Linked DNA regions of Homo sapiens. The protein of the gene in region 1 purifies or fractionates together with the protein of each later gene. This does not show direct contact. Each region holds a gene or a part of one and is shown in the gene's direction. Other genes may lie near its edges. The genes, in order: PIP5K1A, KRR1, TFB1M, DDX55, TBC1D3G, PYM1 and TGFBR3.

Region 1 (3,998 bases):
CTGCAAGCTCCGCCTCCCAGGTTCATGCCATTCTCCTGCCCCAGGCTCCCGAGTAGCCTGGGACTACAGGCGCCCGCCACCACGCCCGGCTAATTTTTTGTATTTTTAGTAGAGACGGGGTTTCACCGTGTTAGCCAGGATGGTCTCGATCTCCTGGCCTCGTGATCCACCCGCCTCGGCCTCCCAGAGTGCTGGGATTACAGGCGTGAGCCACCGCGCCCGGCCACAAAACCTGTTTTAATGGAGTTATTTCATGGGCCATGAGTTTGAGAGGATCTATCTGACCGACTCTTACCCCGAATGTTTTACCATTCCTCTTTATTTATTCATTCCACAGATAATTATGGAGCCCCTACTATGTACGAAGTCACTGGAGGAGCTGGAGATACAAGAGTGAACCAAACACAGTCCTTGCTCCCCAGAAGTTTTACAGTCTGCTCAGAGAGACTGGTCTTCCCACCAGGGTTCATAGCCTACGGGGTACTTTGTTAAAAACGAGCAGTTACTACGAAGACTACAATGGGAGAAATTTTTCTGTGTATCTCCATGCCCTTTGGAGCACAGATAATTGACAGTTGGAGGCTAAAGGGGTTGGGTCGCGGGAAGGTTGTGATAAGTCCCTGATAGCCTCCCGTGCCCTTTTTTGACAGGTCTTCACTGATTCATGCATCAAATATTTACTGAACTCCGTCACTGTGCAGTGCCTAACTTTGTGCTTGAGGCAAACAAAACACAGATCTATTTCGAATGCCATTCCGAGGAAGGTAAGACATGCACGCACGTTTAATCAAATAGTAAACAAGAGTAGTAAAACAGGAAAAAGACTAAGAAGAGTTCTTGGTGGTATTAAATGTTTTGTGATATTCGACACCTTAACGTCTCTGACTTGACACCAGTACTCCCGCAGAGAGTTCTTTCCTGGGTTAGGAATTTCAGAGGACTTGGCGGACCGACTCTTGTCCCGAGTTCAGATCACTCGACCCAGTCCTAGCAAAGAACTGAACCTAAGAGGACCTGCCGAGCCACCGTAGGGACTGTCGGCCAACCCGCGCGCGCACATCTTCCACCCGTGGACTCGTCAGGGCGTGAGGACCCACCTCACGTGACCATTAGCAGCCTCCCGATTGGTTTTGCTCCTTTTTTCTCCCCAATGAGTGGGCTGATGCCCCGAGAAGGTCGGGCGCATGCGCAGTGCTCGGATTTTTTGCTTGGCTACCCGGAGTGAAGCGGCCGGGTTGGGCGATTAACAGGCCGTGGTTAGGAAGGACGGAGAAGGGGCGTTCGCTCCTTTGGGACTTTTCATGCCTCGTTTTTTTTTCAGATGTGGCTTGGTCTGGGCGCAAGGTCCCAGCAGCCAGCTTAAGCTTACTCTTCTGTGAAAGGGGAAAGTATCCCCTGTGGAAAGCGGTTAAACTTGTGGAGGGGGTGCGGGACGTGAGTTCTTCCCCATGCCAGGCGAATGGTGTGGCCTTGAGCTGGTCCAGGAGCCGGCTCGACGTGTCTGAGGGAGGCCCCGGAGGGGGCGGGGAGGTGGCCCACAGAACGCGGGTTCTGTAAAGAGACGTTGGGAAGATTCGATTCCGAGAAGAGGAAGAACCGGATTGAAAGAGAGCCAGGCCGCTGAGGGGGAGGGGGCTGCTAAGATGGCGTCGGCCTCCTCCGGGCCGTCGTCTTCGGTCGGTTTTTCATCCTTTGATCCCGCGGTCCCTTCCTGTACCTTGTCCTCAGGTAAGCCCGGCAGGGCGTGGGTAGGGAGCTGGTGAGGAATATGCGATGGGAGGAAGAGCGAGACCTAAGAGGGTACCTGTAGCTGGGAATGTCCTACGTGTTACCGGTAAGTGGGCGCGAGCTGGGCTTTCAAATAGGGATTTATGAGCGGGCAGGAGTTTGAGGAAAGGATAAGTTTGATTAAGAAGTTGTCGAAAACTTTGGTTGTCTTTGAGGAGGACGGATGGAGATTGAAGGTGGGGGTAGGGTGGCCCGGCGCGGTGGCTCACGCCTGTAATCTCAGCACTTTGGGAGGCCTTGGCGGGCGGATCATTTGAGGTCAGAAGTTCGAGACGAGCCTGGCCAACATAGAGAAATCTCGTCCCTACTAAAAATACAAAAATTATCCGGACAGTAGTGGCGTGCATCTGTAATCCCAGCTACTTGGGAGGCTGAGGCAGGATAATCCCTTGAGCCTGGGAGGCAGAGCTTGCGGTGAGCCGAGATTGGGCCACTGCTCTCCAGTCTGGGCGAGAGAGTGAGACCCTGTCTCAAAAAAAAAAAAAAAGAAGTTGCGGTAGGAAACAAGAGAAACGGAAGGGAGTAGAGAAACTAAGAAAGTAAATGGAGGCCTAAGAAGTAGAGAGAACTACTTAGTGTGAGAGGCAGGTGGAATCTAAGTTGATTGTGGGCTAATTGGATGAAAATGTTGAAGAGAAGCCATGGGACTTAAAAGATATCGAAAAGTTATTGGACGCTTTCGATTTCTGGAGAGGTAGGGAATCGTGAATTTTGTTGGGTGGGCGGGAGTTGTTGAAGCCATCTTTTCCCTCAGATACTCCCCCCTAATGTGTCACCCCTTCTCACTTCGCACCCCCACCCTTAGGGCCGCACAGGCACACAGACACACATACATACTTTCTCAGACTAATTCCTTTGGTGATTCCCAACTCTAAACTGCCCAACTTTGGGAAGGAATGGAAATTTTGAAGAGAGTCTAAGGAATGTAGGAAATTAAGGTCAAAGACCTTAAAAACAGATGGGAAAGATGGAATGGAGTCTTGAATTGCAGTAGAGACTGCGAGAAGTGATGTTTTGGAAATTAGGCCTGAGAAGAAGAAAGATGGGTGGGGGGGTGACTGTAAGTGTTGTGGGGGAGTATTGCATAATAGAAAAATGGACTGGAAGAATGCTTACGCTGTATCAGGAGATTGGAATTTGGAGAATGGAGCCAGGTTAATGTAGAGAGCTCAGCGTATTAATAGTTAAAAACGAATGAAGATTGAGGGAGGGCTGAGGAGGCTCACAAGAAAAGCAGTAGATTGTGTGTAGGGGAGAAAGTGTGTGTATGTGTGTCGGGTGGGGGGGCGGGAGGTGAGTCAGAAACTGAGCGCTTCCATCAGAAGTGTCTGGTGTTTCACAGTAACTGCTGCTTCTACACTGGAATAGACGCTGCCAGATGTTGGATGCTTTGCTTGAGATTTTGGTATTTCCTCAGGCCTGGTGTTGCGTTTTTGCTGTTTAGAATTTGCTGAATAGGGTTCCTTCCACCTTTCACATTCCAGCTCAGATGCTGAAATATCTAGTCACACATATCTTCTTAATAAGCTGCAGTTTTATTTATTTTTAATAAATCTCTATTTTTAGTTTGTTGAGAGGGGATTTTTTACCTTTCCTATAAAAGTATTAGGGGACCAGAACAACTCATGCTGCATTATAAGCATGAAATAGGATAAAGTAAAAGTGACAGGGTATTTATTTATTTATTTATTTATTTATTTATTTTTGAGACGGAGTCTCGCTCTGTCGCCCAGGCTGGAGTGCAGTGGGGCCATCTCGGCTCACTGCAAGCTCTGCCTCCCGGGTTCACGCCATTCTTTTGCCTCAGCCTCCCGAGTAGCTGGGACTACAGGCGCCCACCACCACGCCTGGCTAATTTTGTTTTTTGTATTTTTAGTAGAGACGGGGTTTCACCGTGTTAGCCAGGATGGTCTCGATCTCCTGACCCTGTGATCCGCCCGCCTTGGCTTCCCAAAGTGCTGGGATTATAGGCGTGAGCCACCGTGCCCCACCTGGGTTTTTATTTTTAATAGAGTAGCTCCTTAATTTGAAACCTGCTTCCCCTCTAATCCCCAACCCAGAAAGAAGAAGGGTTGTGTATGGTCCATAAACAAACTTCTCAACTATTAAGTCAGGTGTTTGCTTTGTACTCTTTGGTATTTTTGTAGGTCTTTATGTTTTCTGTCAGATCCTCTCACTAACAGTTAATAATACAGATTGTATAAATGTTT
Region 2 (3,500 bases), on another chromosome or scaffold:
ATTCTAATGCACAAACAGATAAAGCAGAGCTATTTTGGGTAAATTAGGGGTAGACTTCAGCCTACTTAATTCTACCCCAGTTTTGTAGGTACTTCTTAGAAGCTCTCTGTGGAGCACAGTGTGAAAACTACTGAAGGGGATACTGTAATATGTTATATAGTTGTAATCAATGAAAGTAAGCTTCACAGAATCTGTTGTAGATCATATCAATCCAGTTTTCTTAGATTATGAACCCATGTATTTAAGGATATGATCTTTCGGAAATCTGCCTTTTTCTATTAAAATCTGGAACATCTCATGTTGCGTTAAAACCTTTTTATGAATTTAACACTCAAATTGTAGCTCCTTTGAGAGAGAACTGTTATATCCCTGTGTGCACAAAGTTTGATTATTCTTGGAAATGTAACCATGGTATATAGAACTATTTTATGATGGGTTTGTTGAGCAATCCACTTAAATTTGATGAACTTAAGTTATAAAGTCACTGTTAGATTGGGGGAAAGTGATTTTGAGTTACATTGGGATATTGGGATATTGCAGACAAAAACAAAACTATGTGTCTGATCCCTGGTTTGCATCCTCTGATGTTCCATGGTCTGAAATTTAAATGGAATAGGGAAATGTGAAAATACTGGTTTTCTGTAATCGTGAGAAAGTTTACTTTTGTCTTTTTCTGTGATATTTCAGTTGCTACTGAAAACTTCCTGCTTGCAGGGAACATCAGCTAATTAAGAGCCCTCCCTGCTTTTATAAGTGGCATTTTAAATGTTTTAATGAAATAATGGTTGAAAATTCAGTTTTATTTTTGTCTCATTTTAACAATTCTGCATTTTGTAATTAAATTTCTAATGGTTTTCTAATAATTATACATGTTTGTGATAACCTACCTTTTTGCTTATGTAATTGGTTTAATTTCACCAAAGAAACTAGGAACTGTTTCTTTTATTATTTATAGAAGCAATATTTATAATGTCTGAGTCTGACAAATGTGTGACTTTGGAAAGTAAAAATTTTTACTTTGTTGCATGACTAAAGAGCTTAATGATTAAGAGAGAGTTGGCAAAAGATTCTGAATTACGATCACAAAGTTGGGAGAGATTTTTGCCACAGTTCAAACACAAAAATGTGAATAAACGCAAGGAACCAAAGAAAAAAACTGTTAAGAAAGAATATACGCCATTCCCACCACCACAACCAGAAAGTCAGGTTAGTACTAAATGTAGAACTTCATATGAAGGAGAATCTATTTTAATGTATTTGGTCAGAAACTTTATTGAAAGTATTTCAGGTGGGATATGTGTATATATATATATTGTGTGTGTGTGTGCAGAGCTATAAGAAACTGAGGGTAAATATAAATAGGCATATTTTGAGCTGAGTGCATGGGGGTGTGCAGTGGGGCGTTCACATTGATTATAAACTGCATCCAGGAGGTTTGTGACCCTGTAGCCACTGTAAATGTTCCATGGATAAAAGTTCGTTTAGTCTGCAATACTCTTTTCTCTGATTTGGCAACATTATTGTGACTGTGTGCTCTATGGTTGTTCTTGTTCTGAAATCTTAAATTGTAAATTGTAACACCCACCGTTTTTCTAAGTTATGATTCCTTTTGTCAGGTGTCTTCTGCTTCATTTCCTTTCCCACCATGACCAGTTTCCATTTTGTTCTTGCACATCATTGTTTTGATTCATGCCCCTTTTTACTTCTGTCCCACCTTCTCAGCAAAGCTCTAAAACTTGGATCAGTCTAAAAACTTGACTTCTTCCTTGCAACGTGGCTACCAAATTAAGTTAGAGAAAGTTTTATCTTTGGATTAATTTCATTCAAAATTCATGTTTCCTCTTAATTCTCTCAGTGCCCTCCCATGTTTAGCATATGACATTGCATTTTATTGAAATATTTGAGACCACCAGATAAGAACCCCTTTCTGTTTCCTCTTCTCTCACGTATGGGTTTTCTTCCACCTGCATCAGCCTCTTCTATGTGTTCTTTGAATTCCATCTTCACCTGTCTCCTGGGGGTTCTTGCTTCATTATTCCCTTCCTTGGCTATATCCTAAAGCCTTCCCTTTCTACTTCTGCTCAGCATGTGAACTCATTGCTTTCTACATCTCTTTTTTCCACAACCATGGTTGGAGTCTTTCAGGGAAGATTTGTGATTGACGGGGAAAATGATGATCATAGTGAAAAAACAATGGAAGTTTTGGATCATGGAGGAAATTGATAGTAGTTAGGGGGAAAGTGGAGTGATGCAGTCATTAAACCATGCTTCCATAACACCTGCCTTATTTCTTATGGCCCTTTCTTGTAGTAATTGACTTATCTTTCTTCTGTAGCTGTGTAAGCTTCTTGAAACAGTGATGTCTCGATTGACTTGTTCTTAACACTTAATTCATTATGTGACTGGGCGAGTTATTTATCCCATCCATACTTAAGTTTCCCCATACCTAAAGTGGGAGTAATGGTAATACCTATCTTAAAGAATTGTTAGTGAGGATTAAATGAGTAATTATAAAGAGCTTAGAACAGTGCCTTAGATATAATAATGCTATGTAAGTGGGAGACAGGTCAGTTATACACATTTTACATGTTGGCTGTATATTGAATGAACAAGCTGTTGCTTTTGCTAATTAGTCACCAATTCCTGATAGTTCTGGCTTTTATTCTGCATGCCACTACCTTTATTCCAGGCTCTCATCTATTCTTCATTCCTCTCCATTAAAATTATTCTTTGGTCTTTACAGTCTTCTCAGAAACCTACAGTCATTTCTAAATCTTATCCCTCCTACTTTGTCTGCCATTGAAGCTTCTTCAAATTTTCCCCAAAACTCTCTCTCCAGTTTCTTCTCACACTTTTCTGAATCAGTGACCTTCCATGCCATATCCCTGAACTACTCTGGGTTGTATTCCATGGAGGTGCTTTCCTACCTCCACACTTTTGTGTATGTATTCCCCTCAGCTTAGACTCTGTTTCCTTTATGTCACTACCATTTTTATTAATAAATCAGTTTGACCCCATTGTTTTTACCCTAAGGATATTGTGACTTGCTTAGGACATGACTTCTCCTCTACATTATTTCTGATGTAATTGTAAATACCGTTTTCAACAGATCGATAAAGAATTGGCTAGTGGTGAATACTTTTTGAAGGCAAATCAGAAGAAGCGGCAGAAAATGGAAGCAATAAAGGTACGGCACTTTATGTCTGGCTCACATGAATAGCAAAGTTCATAGATACTTGAATTATTTAACTATAAATACATTTAACTGATATATTTTTTATTTATTAATGTAGGCTAAACAAGCAGAAGCCATCAGTAAGAGACAAGAGGAAAGAAACAAAGCATTTATTCCACCTAAGGAAAAACCAATTGTGAAACCTAAGGAAGGTAATGCTTTCTATGATGTAAAAGTCTTTATTAATTAGGAAAAGTAAACCCATAATAAATTTGTCTGAATCTTTTTAAGAAACAGTTGTATCTTTTCATCAGTTCTCTTAGCA
Region 3 (3,500 bases), on another chromosome or scaffold:
ACAGGACAGAGAGAAAGGAGTCCTCAGGAAGAACAACCAGTCCAGATTGGAGCCAATTAAAAGGGGAATTTGATAAAACTACTGTCAAGTTTGCATAGAGTCAAAAAAAAGTTGCAAAAACTCAGGAGAGTTTAAGATTGAATTCATGATAAATAAATAGAAAACTAAATATAACAGGGAGTGAATCAAGGGAAATATACCATTATTGGAATGAGAAGTACAAAAATATTATTTGGAGATAAATAATTATTTTGAAAACCTAAGAAAAAATGAGAGACATATATAAAAATAACTACAAAACCTAACTGAGAATCTCAAGGTCACTGAGATAAATCCAGAAAAATATCATAGCCCCAGAAGGAAAAATGATTATTTTAAAGAAGCTGATTTTTCCAAGAATTCTGTATATCTAATTATAATCCTCAAAGAACTTATCTTGAAATACGCAGTTCTAAGGATCATCTGGAGGAATAGACCTGCAACAATACATAAGAAATGTTGAAAAGGGAGAGTGATGAGAAAAGACTTCCTTGTCATATGCTAAAATGTATGGTGAAGCTTTAATAATTAAAGCAGTATGAGAAGCAGCACGTGACAGAGCAATTACTAGACTAGAAAGCCCGATGCAGACACCTTAGCAGTATCTGATAATGGTCAGATCAAAAATCAGCAGTGAAGGAAAGAATTAAGTAAATGCATGGATATTTGGTTAACTATTATGAAAAAAAATTATCTCTAAATTCCATTTGGGTCTTTGGATCTTCTCTTTCTGTCCTCATTACATTCATGCCTTCCTTGGCATTTTTCTATGTATGTATGTATGTATGATATTTAAAGTAGATGTTTTGGCCAGGCGTGCTGGCTCACACCTGTAATCTCAACACTTTGGGAGGCTAAGGTGGGAGGATTGCTTGAGCCCAGAGTTCGAGACCAGCCTGGGTAACATAGCTCCCTATGTTACCTTGTCTCTACAAAAAATAAATAAAAAATTAGCCAGGTCCGGTGCTGCATGCCTGTGGTCTCGACTACTCAGGAGGCTGAGGTGGGAGGATCACCTGAGCCCAGGAGATCAAATTACAGTGAGCCGTGATCATGTCACTGCACTCCAGCCTGGGCGGCAGAGCAAGACCCTGTCTCAAAAAATTGAACAAATAAGTAGCTGTTTTAAGATCCTTGCCTGCTAATTTCATTACCTCTATCATTTCTGTACTCTTTTAGTGATTGATTTCCCCTTCTTGCTATAGGTTGCATTTTTCTGTTTCTTTGAAAGCCTGATAATTTCTGACAAAACATCAGGTATTGTGAGAGTTTTATTTTTTTTAATGCTGATGAGGGCTGGATTTTGTGGTATTGGGTTGAGTGTTGGGTTTGTTGTGACACATAGATAAGATTGCTTGAGGCTTTTATTGTTCTGGTGGATCCAGGGTAGCTTTTAATTTGGGGCTCGTTGAGCCCCAGTACTACATCATGCCCTTTCTGAGGAAGGCACCCAACGCCCTGCATGTTACAAGGCCTCTTGAGCCATGTGAGCCCCAGTTGCTCCTGCCTTCCCCTGGTTCTAGTTCAGGCTCCCAAGCCTCAGGCACCTGCAGATCAGTGCTCAGCAGGGGACTTGGGGGACCCTTGGGACCCTTTTGCTACCTCAGGAGCTCTGCCTCACATTCTCTCTCCCTCTCCTGTTCCTGTCTCCCCCACCCGCTGCTCCTGCACACGTGTGAGCACCGCGTGTGTGCGTTTTCCATGTCTCTGGTAGTCTGCCCCACAAATTCTGCCTGCCGAGGCCTCCCAGATCTCCAGGTCTGGCTCCCTGAGCCCAGGAGACCTCTAGGCTCAGTTTGAGCTGCCCCCTGCCTCTGCTGCAGCCTGAGAAGGGCCTCCAGTCCTCTTCAGGCCGGGCATCTAAGGCTCATCTCCTTTCCATTTCAGTAATGACAGTCCTGCTCCACCTGTTGTCCTGTTTATGCAAACTCTTGTTTCCTATGACTTATTCAGCTTTATACTTGTTTCAGAACAAAACTTTTTAATGCCAGAATTTGTTTGAAATCAATAGACTCTACTACTACATAAGCTTAATTCTTTAAATGCCTTCCTCTCAGATAATTTGAGTGTATCATAAGAATTTCATTTCTTAGATCTATCCCTCTCTTTTTACCCTTGTTTCTGTTTAGGGGAATCATTTCCAACAAGGGCACTTTTGCCTTATCTGCTCCTCAGGGGCATTTGGCAATGTCTGACATGTTTTTGGTTGTCACACCAGGGAGGGGGCTCTGGTCTCTAGTGGATAGAAGGTTAGGGATGCTGGGAAGCATTCTTCAGTGCACAGCAGAGCCTCCCACAGCGAAGAACCACCCAACATTAATCAGCCCAAGATGTCAGTCATGCCAAGGTTGGAAAACTTTCCTTTAGATGATTTGGCCATAAAATCTTTCTCTCAGGAGTCTTGGAACTTCCCATCATAAAAACGTAGGACCGTTGCATGTTTGTTAGGAACCCTGAGATGATATCACCACTTTTCTTAAGGTCTTTGTCATTTCCTCTTCATGAACCTGCTAATTCTCTTGGGTTGGTTTGAATTGGGCCCATGCTGAGTTTTCTTTGTTGTTTTTCTCAACCTTTGGATATGTTGGTTCTGACAGAAACCATTCTTGTTTCCTCTGCACTTATACAACTTCTGACACCAGATGTGTGGGTTTTTTCCACACCAAGCAATCTCCAATTCTCCGAACACCAGCTGGGTATCCTGCAGTTTCATTCAATTCTGACACTGTCCACATGTTTTTAGTGTTAGATCCCACAAGTTAAGGGCCAAGTCCCACAAGACTGCGCCTCACTTCAGATGACAGTCACAAATCTGGGCCTCTAGGAGTTCTGAGCGACCAGCTATAAAATAAATCAGAGGGTTCCATGTCCCCCTCCTCAGATTGAATCATTTTTCAGAATGGCTCAAAAACTCAGGGAAACACCTTACCTACACTTGAGTAATGGGTAATCAATTGGTCTCAGTGACCAGCCCCATCTTGAGCTACCTAGAGGCCTCATCCTAAGTTATCTCATTACTGTAAACTCTGGGGGACTTGTGAATTTAAAGCAAGACATGCCGATTACTCAGGAAATTTCAAGGGCTTTAGGAGCCAGCGACAAAGTCCAAATATATTTCTTATTAAACCACATCTGTGGATTTATTTTTCTCAGCCGACATGATTATTTTGGTATTTCTGCTCTTGAATAACACAATAGAGATACAAAATACTATGTACTCTATTTGTGTGGGGGGAAACACAAAGAAACAGAGGCTTAAGAAGAGGTGGAGTAATATTTTCGGTGACTCAGCATGTCAGTTGTGGTTATTAATAATAGTGTTGCTTCGACTTCACCATATGCAATTCTTTTTCTTTAACAAAAAAAGTTGATTTTAGTTCAATTTTAGCATGAATATTGAGAAGAGTTTATATAGAGTCTATAATTTATGGAATGCCTTAGAAGTCTAGGTAACACTGGTC
Region 4 (3,500 bases), on another chromosome or scaffold:
ATAAAACTTGGTATTTTGGTAATCATCAACCACATTCCCAAGATCCAGAGAGTTTGGTAAATGTTAACTTTCTTTCCAAAGTGGGAACATCATTGTGGCCACTCCAGGCCGCTTGGAGGACATGTTCCGGAGGAAGGCCGAAGGCTTGGATCTGGCCAGCTGTGTGCGATCCCTGGATGTCCTGGTGTTGGATGAGGCAGACAGACTTCTGGACATGGGGTTTGAGGCAAGGTACTGGACTTTGGACTTCACTGGCTTGAGTGGGCAGATGATACTAATACAAAAGGGGAGCAAAATGGAGTTTACTGTTTCATGACTAGGTATTTTTATTTTTTATTTTCATTTTTATTTATTTTTTATTTATTTGTTTATTAGAGACAGGGTCTTGTGCTGTCACCCAGGCTGGAGTGCAGTGGTGTGATTATGTTCACTGCAGCCTCAACCTCTCGGGCTCAGATGATCCTCCTGCATCAGCCTCCCGGGTAGCTGGGATTACAGGTGCACACCACCATGCCTGGATGGTTTTTTTATTTTTTGCAGATGAGGTTTTGCCATGTTGCCCAGTCTGTTCTCAAACTCCTGGACTTAAGTGATCCTCCTACCTAGGGTACCCAAAGTGCTAGGATTACAGGTGCCAGCCACCATGCCTGGCCTAAGTATTTTTATTAACCACATTTTAATTTCAAATCATTAAGTAGTTTGAGCTTTCAAATTCTACCACGTGATTTTATTCCAGTTCTATCTTTGATCTTAAAATGCACTTTCCTTCAAGTTTTTTTTTTTTTTTTTTTTTTGAGACAGGGTCTCACTCTGTCATCCAGGCTAGAATGCAGTGGCATGATTTCGGGTCATTGCGACCTTTACTTCCTGGGCTTAAGTGATCCTCCCACCTCAGCCTCCTGAGTCATCTGGGACTACAGGCACATGCCATCATGCTTTTTTTTTTTAATTTTTGGCAGAGACAAGATCCCATTATGTTGCCCAGGTTGGTCTCAAACTCCTGGGCTCAAGAGATCTTCCCATCCCAGTCTCCCGAAGTGCTGGGATTACAAGCATGAGCCATCACACCTGGCAGTTTTGTTGTTTTTTAATAAACAGCTTTATGGGATATAATTCACATATCATTATAATTGTATGCTAAAATTTGAGGAACCTTGGAAAAATGAAAGTATAAAGAAGAAACAAAGAATCACCTATAATCTCACCTCCCAGTGTATGTGCTATAAATATTTTGATGGCTTCACTTTCAGTCTTTTTGAATACCTGTTTAGTATCGTGAAGCACTGTGTGTTGATTCTGCTGGCAAGTGAGCGGTTAAGTGTGAGCCCTCTTTTTATCAGCATCAACACCATTCTGGAGTTTTTGCCAAAGCAGAGGAGAACAGGCCTTTTCTCTGCCACTCAGACGCAGGAAGTGGAGAACCTGGTGAGAGCGGGCCTCCGGAACCCTGTCCGGGTCTCAGTGAAGGAGAAGGGCGTGGCAGCCAGCAGTGCCCAGAAGACCCCCTCCCGCCTGGAAAACTACTACATGGTAAGCGCCTGGGCTTGCTTCTTACTCAGCGATAATGACCAGTGCTCATTTTATGGAAATTGTACTGGTAGAATAAATATGTGAGACCCTGTAGCACCTATGAAATGCATTTGGGGACAGAGCTAGCTAGGGCAAATGGCCTGAGTGGTCCTACTCATTGAATGAATAAGTTAAATTGGACATAAATGTATTTTAAGCACAGTCTCTAAGGACAGAGTCTCTGAACCTCCTACCCTCAAGTGACCAAATGTTTCTATTGTACATGCTTGGGGTGTGCTGGGTGCAGCCATGACTAAGCTCTGTAGTTCCTGGGCCCGTCAGAACAGCCTGTCTGACAGAGAAGGGCATAGTTAGATGTGCAGGTGGAACACAGAAAATCAAATGACAGACTCACTCCTAAGGAGACTTTGTGGGGTGGAAATGTTCTGCTCCGTAAATGTTGTGTATTTTTGACCTGCATCAAATATGCTGAGTTTCTTTTTTTTTTTTTTTTTTTTTTTTGAGACAGAGTCTGGCTCTGTCGCCCAGGCTGGAGTGCAGTGGCGCGATCTCAGCTCACTGCAAGCTCCGCCTCCTGGGTTCATGCCATTCTCCTGCCTCAGCCTCCCGAATAGCTGGGACTACAGGCGCCCGCCACCACGCCCGGCTAATTTTTTGTTAGCCCTGTTAGCCAGGATGGTCTCCATCTCCTGACCTGGTGATCCACCTGCCTCGGCCTCCCAAAGTGCTGGGATTACAGGTGTGAGCCACCGCGCCCGGCCGTTTTTTTTTGTTTGTTTTTTTTTGTTTTGAGACGGGGTCTCACCCTGTCACCCAGGCTGGAGTGCAATGGCACGATCTCGGCTCACTGCAACCTCTGCCTCCTGGTTCAAGCAATTCTTCTGCCTCAGTCTCCCGAGTAGCTGGGATTACAGGCATGTGCCACCATGCCCAGCTAATTTTTTGTATCTTTAGTAGAGGTGGGGTTTCACCACATTGGACAGGCTGGTCTTGAACTCCTGACCTCATGATCCTCCTGCCTCAGCCTCCCAAAGTGCTGGGATTACAAGAATGAGCCATCATGCCTGGCCCAAATATGCTGAATTTCTAGTAGTAAATACTGGCTGCTGGCTTCTGTAGTTTCTTCACAAAGAAGTAGATGGGCTTTTGGCAACTTGATTGTTTAGTAATGAGGCCACTCCTCACCCCTGTTCTGTTCTGTCCCATTGCTGGGATGGGCCAGGAGGCACAAATGTAGAGAGCACAGGCTGCAGGGGAGGCAGCACCATCAGGGCGAGGAGGCACCCACAGGCCAGTGCCACTGCTGACGGTACACTGGCCCACCAGCCCGGGGCTGGGGCTTTTCTTTCTCTTTTGCAATAAGCTTTCTCAGGTTAAATTTTTCGTTAGGCCTGGAGGGGTTCCCTAGCTCCTGAACATGTCTGCTGTTCAAAATGAAGGAGGCTGGTCTCGAAACCAGAATGTTCCTATTGCTGCAGACTGTGAGGTTGTCGAGGCTGCTCTCCGGTTTGTGTCAATTTGTAGGCAGATTAAAGGTAGAATGAGTTTGCAAATGAGAAACTGCACCTAGTGTAACTGGAGAGTGTTGTCAAAATCAGATAGGCTCATCAGAAGTGGGAGTTGTAGTTGCCATTGATGTTTCTGACAAGCTGGACTGGGTGAGGGAGGAGGCTAGCTCTTCCCAAGCAGAGGGAAGGACTCTGCATAGGGTAGTGTGGAGAGCATGGGCGCTAGAGCAGGACTGCCTGGTGCATATCTTGGCTTTGGCCCCTACCAGATTTAACCGATGAACTTAGAGGTCCTTACTTGTCAAATGGGGGCCACAGTAGTATACAGCTTCGTAGGGTTGCTGCAGGATTAATTAATTAATCCATGCAAAAATGTTCATGATAGTGCTTAGTACACAATAAGTATGGGTTGAGCATTCCTAACTTGAAATTCCAAAATCCAAAATCCTCCAAAATCTGAAG
Region 5 (3,500 bases), on another chromosome or scaffold:
GTCCTCCCAGGTGACCTCAGCCCTCCCAGGTGATGTCCTTCCATGGTGACTCTGGCTCTTGCAGGAGGTGGGCTACTGCAGGGACCTGAGCCACATCGCCGCCTTGTTCCTCCTCTATCTTCCTGAGGAGGATGCATTCTGGGCACTGGTGCAGCTGCTGGCCAGTGAGAGGCACTCCCTGCAGGGTAAGTGAACAGCTGCCCCGGGGACCTCCTGCAGCCAGACCTGGGGATGGCCACCCTGGCCAGGTGATCACAGCTTTCAGCCAAGGCACCCTCCTTGTGTCGCCAGCTTGTTGGGAGACTTTAGGATGTCTCTGCTGAGGGTCCCACAGGAGTCCACGGCTGACCCCCAAAGCCCAAATCAGACGCCTGTCATCCCCATCAGCAGAGGGCATCTCATCCTCCCCGTGGCCACCCTCTGTGTCCTGGAGCCACGCCCTCCGGCTCTGATTCTGTGCAGCTGACTCTCCCCTCCCTGAGAGTCCTCCTGCCCTCCAGCTGCCCGGGCTCCTGCTGCCATCGGTGCCCACGAATGGGCCGACCAAGCCCAGGTGGCAGCATCTCCCCATCCCCTGTTCCCTGGCCCGACCCCACTACCAGGAGATGACCGGGAAGCCCAGCGCCCACCCAGTTCCGGCCACCCTGTCGTGGCCTGAAAGTCAGGCTTGCCCTTTTTGCACCCTGGCCCAGGAGGCCTCCAGGGGAACCTCCAGCCAGGCTCCAGGGAATGTTCCCGCCCCACCTCCCCAGGGTAAAGGCCGCATGTTGGGGTCACCAGATGGGAGGGTGGGAGGCCTTGGGGTTTGGGGGCCTCTCCAGCTGCCCAGCTCTTGCAGCTGATGGCTCCACATCTTGGGGGAAGGCTCTGATTTCATGATGGGCTGGGGGCTTCTCAGGATTTCACAGCCCAAATGGCGGGACCGTCCAGGGGCTCCAAGACCAACAGGAGCATGTGGTAGCCACGTCACAACCCAAGACCATGGGGCATCAGGTGAGTTTATGGTCCCCTCAGCTCTTCCCAGAGGCCCTGCCTCCCGTGGGGCTGTAGGAGCAGGGGGGCTGGAGCCCCTCGTGGGGCTGGTGACTGGCTGAGTCCCAGCCAGGGCCTGACCTGGGACGTCGGGTTCTCCATGGGCTGGGAGTTGGTTTCCTTTCCTGCCCTGGAGGAGACAGAGGCACAGGGATGGGGGCCCAGCTCCCACAGAGCAGGGCAAAGGGCAGTGTGTCCACCGGGAGTGTGGGAAGGTGACAGTGTTGTGGGGAGCTCTGGACACCGCCCAGTGTTCTGCACTAGGGGAAGGGTCTTCAGAGGCCCTGGAAGAGGGAGGTTTTTAGGGCAGCCCAGTGGCCTGAGCACCTCTGTTGCTTCCATCAGGACAAGAAAGATCTATGTGGGCAGTGTTCCCCGTTAGGCTGCCTCATCCGGATATTGATTGACGGGGTAAGGAGGCATAGGGAGACCCTGGCTCAGGGACCTTCCTTGCCCTGCAGTGCCCTGCTTCCCCAGCCCGGGGGTCTGGCTCACTCCCAGCCCACAGGAGGCTCAGGCGGGTCCCCAAAGGACACACAAGCAAAACCCTCTGCCCAAGGGGGGTCATCCCAGGGCCATGGCTGGGGCTCAGGCCCAGCCTCATGGGCAGACTGGGCCAGGACCCGACTTGAGAGGGCTCAGGGAAGCCTCAAGCCCTGGGCAAGCCCCTCTCTCCAGGAGCCACATCCCCACTCAAATGAGTGCCCCCCATGAGGAGCTTCAAGACCTTGTCTGACCCAGCGTCCTGGAGGGCTCAGGCGACCCTCATGGGGAAGGTCACTGACTCTGGAGACTGAAGCCCCAGTGTGCGCAGCTCGAGCCACCAGCCCCAGCCTGGAAGGACCAGGTTCTTTCACACCTGCTGTCCCCACAGATCTCTCTCGGGCTCACCCTGCGCCTGTGGGACGTGTATCTGGTAGAAGGCGAACAGGCGTTGATGCCGATAACAAGAATCGCCTTTAAGGTTCAGCAGAGTAAGTCTACGTGTGCCCAGCGGGGCCTGGGGAGCCCTGGGGTCAGACCCCGACTGGCCCGAGGGCAGCTTCCTCACACTGTCCTCATGATCCGCTGTTCTGGCCCAGAGGGAGGTCTGGCCAGGTGGGCTGGGCAGGACACTGTGACACTGAGCCCATCCCCCACATGACCCAGATGAAAGTCGAGAGTGTGGTGAGCACTTCCCTGTCCGGATCGCCCCCCAGCCACAGTCTCCTGTGTATATCTGGACACCTGGGGTGGCCACAAAAGGATCCGGCACCGCCCAGTAGGAGACTGAAGTGGCCACGGGATATGAGCTGTGACCATTCCCAGGTAACTCCCCTGGCCTGATATCCACCCTGTCCCTAGAGCGCCTCACGAAGACGTCCAGGTGTGGCCCGTGGGCACGTTTTTGCAACCGGTTCGTTGATACCTGGGCCAGGGATGAGGACACTGTGCTCAAGCATCTTAGGGCCTCTATGAAGAAACTAACAAGAAAGCAGGGGGACCTGCCACCCCCAGGTGGGCTCCAGTGCCATGTCCCCTCCCATGTCACCCTCTGGGGTAGTCAGTAGTAGGGGAGTGCCCGGGACCCGCAACCCTACTACCTGGGCCTTCCTCTTCACCTTTTCTTCCTCCTCTTCCTCCTGGACTCTAAGAAAGTACAGGAGGCCCACCGGTCCTCAGGGCAGGCGCTCAGTGCGTGTATACTGGACATGCTGTGCATGCAGGAGGGGGATGTGGGCAAGACCCTCCAACAAGCCCCCTCCCACTTTCCACGGTGTCTCCCTCTCCCCCTCGCAGGGCCCTCCAAGTTACTAGACGAGCCCAGACCCATTTGTGGGAGACCCCGCCCCTCCCTGCAAGCACCCACAGCCTCAGAGAGCAGCAGAGGCCCCTCACTCCTGCACGCTCCTCCAAGGTTGCCAGGACAAGAAGCCTGGAGCCAGGGAGACAAGGGAATCCGTGTCCCTGACCCACAGAGCATTCAGGGAGAGGGCCCAGAGCCAGAGCCAAGAGTTCAGCCAGAAGTGGGAACGGTCAGTCCTGGCATGGACTGGGCAGCCCAGGAGGGCAGAGGGTGACCCACGTCCGGGCCCAATCACCCACTGCGGAGACGGGTCCCCACGTGAGGTGACAAGGGGCTGGGTGACATCCAAGGCCCCTCCCACCTGAGTTCTGACTGGGGGCCGTATCCCAGGCCCAACAGCCCTGGGACGAAGGTGTGTGGCAGGAAGCCCCCAGCCAGTCTGAACCCTGGGGGCAGTCCCAGGAGCCACCCGCCATGCCACGACAGCTTCCCCACGCCAGGCAGCATGCACCCCTCCCTCTGGGATCAGCAGACTACAGGCGTGTCCTCGGTGTCAGGCCACGGGGGCCACACAGAGACCCCGAGGACTCCAGAGACGCAGGCAGGTGGGGCCCAGCCCGGAAAGGCCTGCGTGGGCTCACTGGAGATGCTGACCGCGTCTGTTTTCCTTTCAGCCAAACCC
Region 6 (3,500 bases), on another chromosome or scaffold:
TGACCAATATGGTGAAACCCCGTCTCTACTAAAACTACTAAAATTAGCTGAGTGTGGTGGCATGGTGGCGTGGGCCTGTCATCTCAGCTACTCGGGAGGTTGAGACAGGAGAATCGCTTGAACCCAGGAGGCAGAGGTTGCAGTGAGCTGAGTTCGCACCACTGCACTCCAGCCTGGGCGACAGAGCGAGACTCTGTCTCAAAAATAAATAATAAATAAATATTTAAATTTATTTTTTATGTTCTTCCATAGCTGTTTCCCCAACCTTTTCCAGATCTGTGTGACCATCCCTTTTAATTCTCCTTCTTTTGGCAGAAGACTTCATTTTTATTTCACTGAAAACTCAAGGCCTATCATTTTTGTTTCCTTTTTCTTCACAGCCAGATTTTGTTTGTTTCTTTCTTTTTTTAAAAATGAAGCGATGCAGACTTGCTATGTTGCCCAGGCTGGTTTTGAACTCCTGGCCTTAAGTGATCTTCCCACCTCAGTCTGCCAAAATGTTGGGATTACAGGTGTGAGCATGCACCTGGCCCCAGATTTCTCGAATATGAAGAAATCTCCTGATATTTCTGTTTCCTTGCTGCCTATTTGTTCTTAACTCTTTGCAGTCATTATTTCTAGCACTACCCTCTCTCGAGTTGCCTATGCCTTTTTCTAATTGTTTCGTGAATATCTTCACTCTTGGATATACTGTTATACCTCAAATCCAACCTGACCAAAACCAGTATCAGTTTTTCCATCACTATTTCTGTTAAAGGCACCATTATTCTAGCCAACCCAAGGTAAACTTTTGTATCGTTTCTTTTTTTTTTTTTCTTTGAGACAGAGTCTCACTCTGTCGCCCAGGCTGGAGTGCAGTAGCGCGATCTCGGCTCACTGCAACCTCCGCCTCCCTGGTTCAAGTGATTCTTCTGCCTCAGCCTCCTGAGTAGCTGGGATTACAGGCACATGTCACCACGCTTGGCTAATTTTTGTATTGTTAGTAGAGACAGGGTTTCATCATATTGGTCAGGTTGGCCTCGAACTCCTGACCTCGTGATCTGCCAGCCTTGGCCTCCCAAAGTGCTGGGATTACAGGCATGAGTCACCACGCCTAGCCATTTCTTTTTTTAATATTCTAAATATACTTGATTTTTTAGAACACTTTTAGATTTATAGAAAAATTGAGAAGATGCTACAGAGATTTCCCATATACCCTACACTCAGTTTCCCCATTACTGTCATCTTACGTTAATATAGTACTTTGCTTGCAATTAATGAAGCAATATTGATATATTACTATTAACTAGAATCCATACATCATTTCATTAGTTTTGTTTTTTTTTTTTTTCAGACAGGGTCTTGCTCTGTCACCCAGGCTGGAGTGCAGTGGTGCAATCACCATTTACTGTAGTCTTAACTTCTGGGCTCAAGTGATCCTCACATCTCAACCTACTGAGTAGCTGGGACTACAGGTACACACCACCACGCCTGGCTAATTTTTGTATTTTTTGTAGAAATGCGGTCTTGCTCTGTTGCCCAGTCTGATCTCAAATTCCTGGGCTCAAGCAATCCTCACGCCCTGGCCTCCCAAAGTGCTAGAATTACAGGTGTGAACCACCATGCCTGGCTGATTTCCTTAGTTTTTACTTAATTTATTTTTATATTTATTTATTTATTACTATTTTTTTGAGACGGAGTTCTGCTCTTGTTGCCCAGGCTGGAGTGCAATGGTGAGATCTCAGCTCACCGCAACCTCTGCCTCCCGGGTTCAAGTGATTCTCCTGCCTCAGCCTCCTGGGTAGCTGGGATTACAGGCATGTGCCACCATGCCCGGCTAATTTTGTATTTTTAGTAGAGATGGGTTTCTCCATGTTGGTCAGGTTGGTCTCAAACTCCTGACCTCGGGTGATCTGCCCACCTCGGCCTCCCAAAGTGCTGGGATTACAGGTGTGAGCCACTGCGCCCAGCCTTTTTACCTAATTTTTTTTTGTTGTTCCAGGATCTTATCCAGGGTACTACATAACATTTAGTTCTCATGTCTCTTTAAGCTCCTCTTGGCTGTGACATTTTCTCAGGCTTTCCTTGTTTTCCATGACCTTGAGTTTTGAGGAGTACTGGTCAGGTATTTTGTAGGATATCCTTCTATTGGAATTTGTCTGATGTATTTCTCATGATTAGATTTGGGTTATGTGTTTTGGGGAGGAAGACCACAGAGGTAAAGTGACATTTTCATCACATTGTATCAGGGTACATAGTATCACAATGATTTTTTACTGTTAATATTTTTGTTTTTTTGAGACAGGGTCTTCCCTCTGTTGCCCAGACTGGAGTGCGGTGATGCCATCATGGCTCACTGAAATCTTGACCTCCCAGTCTCAATTGATCCTCCCACCTCAGCCTCCTGAGTATCTAGGACCACAGGCGTGTGCTATCATGACCAGCTAATTTTTTTTTTTTTTTTTTTTTTGGTAAAGATGGTCTCACTATGTTGCCTGGGCTGGTCTTGAACTCCTGAGCTCAAGGTATTGTTCCCCTTTGGCCTACCAAAATTCTGGGATTACTAGGCATGAGTCACTATGCCCAGCCTGTTAGTATTGACCGTGATCATCTGGCAGAGATATTGTTTGTAAGGCTTCACTGTAAAGTTAGGCTTTACCCCCTTCCTTTCCATACTGTAGGGAAGTCACTATTGCCAGCCCACGCATAAGGAGTAGAGAGTTGTGCTCTCCTTAAAAAAAGAGATTAAGGGCTGGGCATGGTGGCATATGCCTGTAATCCCAGCACTTTGGGAGGCTGAGGCTGGAGGATTGCTTGAGGCCATCCTAAGCAACATAGCAAGACCTCTTATCTACAAAAAGATTTAAAAAAAAAACGAGCTGGGTAAGGTGGCACACACCTGTGGTCCCAGCTACTCAGGGAGCCTCAGAGGGGAAGATTGAGCCAGGGAGGCTGAGGCTGCATTGAGCCGTGATTGTGCCACTGTACTCCATCCTCAGTGAGAGGCTGTCTCAAAAAACAATTAAAAAAACACACTATTTGGCATTTTTCTGCCCAGGAGATTTTTTTCTTTTCCTTTATTAATTTATGTATATCAATATGGACTTATAGATGTGTATTTTATATGTTAGGTTATAATCCAATACTATTTTATTTGCTTTATTGCTCAAATGTTCCAGTTTTGAACATTGGGAACTCTTTTAGTTTTTTACTTGGCCCATCTCCCTTTGACATTTGCCATCATTGCAGGTATGATTTTGTTCTCTGCTCCAGTCCTGCGGTCTGCCATTTCTCCAAGAAGCCCTTGTTCTTTTTACTAAAGAGTAATGTTAAAAACTAAGATCTGATCACTAGGTGTTTTTATTTCTATGGGAGTATTTTTTTTTATTTATGGGAGTTTTATTTTTTTATGATTATTTTTATTATCATCTTTTACTTCTCTCTTGCCCTCCTCATGTATATCAGTTATCAAAATATCATTCTTTTATTCCTACTGCTGTTACCCTTATCCCATCTACAGT
Region 7 (3,500 bases), about 59 Mb from region 1:
GGTTAACTATGATACCCACTAGGTTGGTCTTGTATATGAAAGGTATCTTCTGCCATAGTTTTGTTTCTGTGATCTGCCATAATTATGTATAATTTCATATGTGCATTTATTCTGTGGCTATCTCACACAGAGTAAACTGATTTCCAGTCCTTTCGCAGTCATATATCAATGTCTAAAAGGCTAAGAATCAAGCAGTGTTATTAATAATGTATGTATGGAATTTTCTCATTTAACTCACAGATTTTAAGTCTTAGGTATGGAGGTAGGAGGAAAAACCACCATTTCCAAATAGATTACAATTGATCTGAATTCCTTGCATCATTATAGTCCCCTGGGCATCCTTTTCTCTGATAACACCCAAGAGAATTTTGTTTGCATACGAAAATAGAGCAGATATGATCATAATCATTGGGGAGCACATATACAGTGATTTAGACTATATTCCTAGGTTTGCTTTTGCGGCGGTGATGCCTTAGCCTTGTAGGCATTCACCATCAGGGTTGGGGCTTAGTGGACAGTGGTAGAGAGCCATGAGGAGCTTCATGTGTGGCTGTGGGACCAGCTGCTTCCTGTGGGCAGAAGGGTAACGTTTAAGGGTTAGAGGTCTTGGAGGGGAGACCTAGCAGTTACCAGGGATCTTTGCTGTGGCTTTGGCTGTTACTTCTCTCTGACCTGGCCTGGAACAGCCCAGCTTCATGTGTGTTAATCTGGGAAAATTAATCGTAAAGAGAGTTCTAAGCCTCAGGGGATGACATGATGGGATATAACCCTAAACCTCAAGTCGCCCTTTACCCCCAAGGTAAGATAACATGGAAAGAGCCTGGGACTGAGAAGGAAGCTCTGCTGCCACCAATGGGACTTTAAGCCAGTCTCTGGACCCCTTAGAGCCTGTATTTCCTCATATACTGTTATAATCATACCTGGCTTCCCTCCTGGGTAGAGGAGCAAATAGGACAGTATGTACAATGACAGCCCTTTATCTGGCAGAGGCTTGGATGAGCTGTTACCACTGTCTTTCTGTTTGCTGCTTATAGGTAATATTTTCACATTTCTATTATTTTCTGAGTGCTTTCTGTGACAATAGAGAGCGCCAAAGAATCTTCTAGGAAGAGATCTCAGAGATTGTTGAGACCAACCCTGCCCTTTGCTGATGAAACCGAGACCCGGAGAGCAGAGTGTCTTGCCCAGGGTCACACTCCACTGAGTTAAATGCGGAATCATAGACTCTTGCTTAACTGAAGAGCTCAATAGGAAAGTAACAGTAAACTAAAACAGGAAAGCAAAATGCAACTCTTTTCAGTCATCATGCCTCTCCACAGAAAATTTGTTGTTTTTCTTTACAAGAGGGCTCTTGTTAAAGGCTTTTCTCTTTTTGAGGGGGTAAGAGTAGGGCAGTGAGGGTTGTCTTATAAGAAGTGTCTGACTGGCATGTTGCTCAGAGCAGCAATGACAGCAAGGCCTAAAGTCTTTGCTCTTTTGTGTTTGGAAAAGATGGAACTTGATTAGCTTTTTGGGATGCCTGCTATAGACTTAAAATGATGGCTGTATTAATATGTCTTCTTACCATAGAAGCTGTCATTTACTTTAGAGTTATACCTATTAGGCTGGGCGTGGGCTCATGCCTGTCATCCTAGCACTTTGGGAGGCTGAGCTTGGCAGCTTGCTGGGAGTTCGAGACCAGCCTGGTCAGCATAGTGAGACCCCTGTCACTACTATATATATATTAGCTGGGTGTAGTGGTGCACACCTGTAGTCCCAGCTACTGGGGAGGCTGAGGCAGGAGTATGACTTGAGCCCATGAGGCCAAGGCTGCAGTGAGCCATGATTGTACCACTGTACTCCAGCCTGGGTAACACAGCAAGACCCTGTCTCAAGAAAAATAAAAAAGAACTATACCTATTGATAAATATAGACAAGAAAACAAAGTTATTTTAAAGAAAAAGTGCGGAGTGTGATCATATTTTTTCAAAACAGATGTAGTGGGCCTGAGCATGCTCATTAATAGGTTTGAAGCGGCTAATCTCATGGCCTCCACAACCTGGGCACAGCCCCCAGGATCTGCATTTTGAAACATTAAAAGCAGATGACCCTGGAAAGTTTAGTTTTACATGAGCCTATACCAGGATTAAAAATGAAACAAACTCAGCAACATGATTATCTTATTGGAGAAAAATGTAAAATCTGTCACCTTCATAATGCAGTATAGACAGTCCCCATACAACCATTCTGTTTTTCAATCTAAGTATTCAATAAATTATGTGAGCTATTCAACACTTTGTTATGAAATAAGCTTTGTGTTACATGATTTTTCCAGCTGTAGGTTAACGTAAGTGTTCTGAGCATGTTTAAAGTAGGCTGGACTAAGCTGTGTTGTTCGGTACTTTAGGTGTATTAAACACATTTTCAACTTAGTGATATTTTCAGTTTACAGTGGGTTTGTCAAGATGTAACCTCATCATAAGTTGAGGAGCGTCTTTATGGGAAATTTCCCACAATCACCAATCACAAACATGAACCGTGTATATGAAGCCCAGCTTGGTGAGGACCAACACTAGGCATATAGTTTTTCTGTTTTTCAAACTAACACTAAAATGTTTAGTTTTGTGAGAAGAAGGGGAGGGGGAGGACAATATTGAGAAGCTATCCAGTGATATTTGCATCTTCAGGTACAACCAAAAATCCACTGGGCCTGCTGTCATATCTCCCAGGTTATTTGGTGTTCTCTGAAAAACACCCACCTTCTTGCTTTTCTGTAGTGAACAGCTGTGTGCTGTCTGATAAAAGGCCACAGGACAGCTGTGCAGGTAGAGCTGGTGAAGGCACTTTTGAGTGGCCCCTGATTCTGTGCTTTGTTCTGCCTGTCTGCAGTGTGTGCCTCCTGACGAAGCCTGCACCTCGCTGGACGCCTCGATAATCTGGGCCATGATGCAGAATAAGAAGACGTTCACTAAGCCCCTTGCTGTGATCCACCATGAAGCAGAATCTAAAGGTGTGCTTTGGGAGGCACGATCAGAGCATGGGGCCTGAGCTCTGCTTGTTAAGAAGACCCAATAGTGTAAATCAAAGTCCAGCTTTATTCACAAGATAACTAAAGGGCCAGTTAGTTACTTTAGAAGACCATTTTTTGCCCGAAGAGTCTTTTCTTTAGCTGGTTCTCTTACAGCCATTATGGCTTAGTTGTAAGTAATCTATTTGAAAATGATTTCCTCTGTAAAAAGAATCAGGTCTAGGTTGTTCCTGTCATAAGGTCACTCTCCCTTGCATTCAAATATGCTTCCTTGAGTATGCAAAAAAGGGTTCTAGTTAGTCCCATGTCCCGGGAATTGCACACAATCCACAGTTCATCTTTCTGTGATCTACTGCTAAAGTTTATGCTGGCTATAACCTATTGTATTGCTTTATCAAAATTGCAAATGCCTTTGAGAATATGTGAACATTATTCATCTTAGGTGTAACAGATGAGAACCACTGCCCAAATGCATCTTAAAATTCAGTTTTCA

What was found.
Region 2: the proteins of PIP5K1A (region 1) and KRR1 purify together in Homo sapiens (co-immunoprecipitation; one large-scale study listed by IntAct). This does not show direct contact.
Region 3: the proteins of PIP5K1A (region 1) and TFB1M purify together in Homo sapiens (co-immunoprecipitation; one large-scale study listed by IntAct). This does not show direct contact.
Region 4: the proteins of PIP5K1A (region 1) and DDX55 purify together in Homo sapiens (co-immunoprecipitation; one large-scale study listed by IntAct). This does not show direct contact.
Region 5: the proteins of PIP5K1A (region 1) and TBC1D3G purify together in Homo sapiens (co-immunoprecipitation; one large-scale study listed by IntAct). This does not show direct contact.
Region 6: the proteins of PIP5K1A (region 1) and PYM1 purify together in Homo sapiens (co-immunoprecipitation; one large-scale study listed by IntAct). This does not show direct contact.
Region 7: the proteins of PIP5K1A (region 1) and TGFBR3 purify together in Homo sapiens (affinity purification with mass spectrometry; 2 studies listed by BioGRID and IntAct, with this or other methods). This does not show direct contact.

Annotation. Positions count from the first base shown.
Region 1 is NC_000001.11:151,197,354-151,201,351, forward strand, and holds the start of PIP5K1A (phosphatidylinositol 4-phosphate 5-kinase type-1 alpha), read left to right. Parts: upstream 1-1,198; 5' UTR 1,199-1,643; coding exon 1,644-1,728; exon of another isoform or gene 1,729-1,773; coding exon of another isoform or gene 1,774-1,834; intron 1,835-3,998. UniProt on the Homo sapiens protein: Catalyzes the phosphorylation of phosphatidylinositol 4-phosphate (PtdIns(4)P/PI4P) to form phosphatidylinositol 4,5-bisphosphate (PtdIns(4,5)P2/PIP2), a lipid second messenger that regulates several cellular processes such as signal transduction, vesicle trafficking, actin cytoskeleton dynamics, cell adhesion, and cell motility.
Region 2 is NC_000012.12:75,501,610-75,505,109, reverse strand, and holds part of KRR1 (KRR1 small subunit processome component homolog), read left to right. Parts: intron 1-1,035; coding exon 1,036-1,206; intron 1,207-1,246; exon of another isoform or gene 1,247-3,109; coding exon 3,110-3,187; exon of another isoform or gene 3,188-3,293; coding exon 3,294-3,387; exon of another isoform or gene 3,388-3,500. UniProt on the Homo sapiens protein: Part of the small subunit (SSU) processome, first precursor of the small eukaryotic ribosomal subunit.
Region 3 is NC_000006.12:155,290,485-155,293,984, reverse strand, and holds part of TFB1M (dimethyladenosine transferase 1, mitochondrial), read left to right. Parts: intron 1-3,500. UniProt on the Homo sapiens protein: Mitochondrial methyltransferase which uses S-adenosyl methionine to dimethylate two highly conserved adjacent adenosine residues (A1583 and A1584) within the loop of helix 45 at the 3-prime end of 12S rRNA, thereby regulating the assembly or stability of the small subunit of the mitochondrial ribosome.
Region 4 is NC_000012.12:123,608,599-123,612,098, forward strand, and holds part of DDX55 (ATP-dependent RNA helicase DDX55), read left to right. Parts: intron 1-81; coding exon 82-231; intron 232-1,340; coding exon 1,341-1,530; intron 1,531-3,500. UniProt on the Homo sapiens protein: Probable ATP-binding RNA helicase. Has ATPase activity and is involved in the maturation of precursor large subunit rRNAs.
Region 5 is NC_000017.11:36,330,384-36,333,883, forward strand, and holds part of TBC1D3G (TBC1 domain family member 3G), read left to right. Parts: intron 1-64; coding exon 65-185; intron 186-898; coding exon 899-993; intron 994-1,377; coding exon 1,378-1,443; intron 1,444-1,906; coding exon 1,907-2,006; intron 2,007-2,376; coding exon 2,377-2,529; intron 2,530-3,492; coding exon 3,493-3,500. UniProt on the Homo sapiens protein: Acts as a GTPase activating protein for RAB5. Does not act on RAB4 or RAB11.
Region 6 is NC_000012.12:55,921,395-55,924,894, reverse strand, and holds part of PYM1 (partner of Y14 and mago), read left to right. Parts: intron 1-1,123; exon of another isoform or gene 1,124-1,454; intron 1,455-3,500. UniProt on the Homo sapiens protein: Key regulator of the exon junction complex (EJC), a multiprotein complex that associates immediately upstream of the exon-exon junction on mRNAs and serves as a positional landmark for the intron exon structure of genes and directs post-transcriptional processes in the cytoplasm such as mRNA export, nonsense-mediated mRNA decay (NMD) or translation.
Region 7 is NC_000001.11:91,708,152-91,711,651, reverse strand, and holds part of TGFBR3 (transforming growth factor beta receptor type 3 isoform a precursor), read left to right. Parts: intron 1-2,868; coding exon 2,869-2,989; intron 2,990-3,500. UniProt on the Homo sapiens protein: Cell surface receptor that regulates diverse cellular processes including cell proliferation, differentiation, migration, and apoptosis.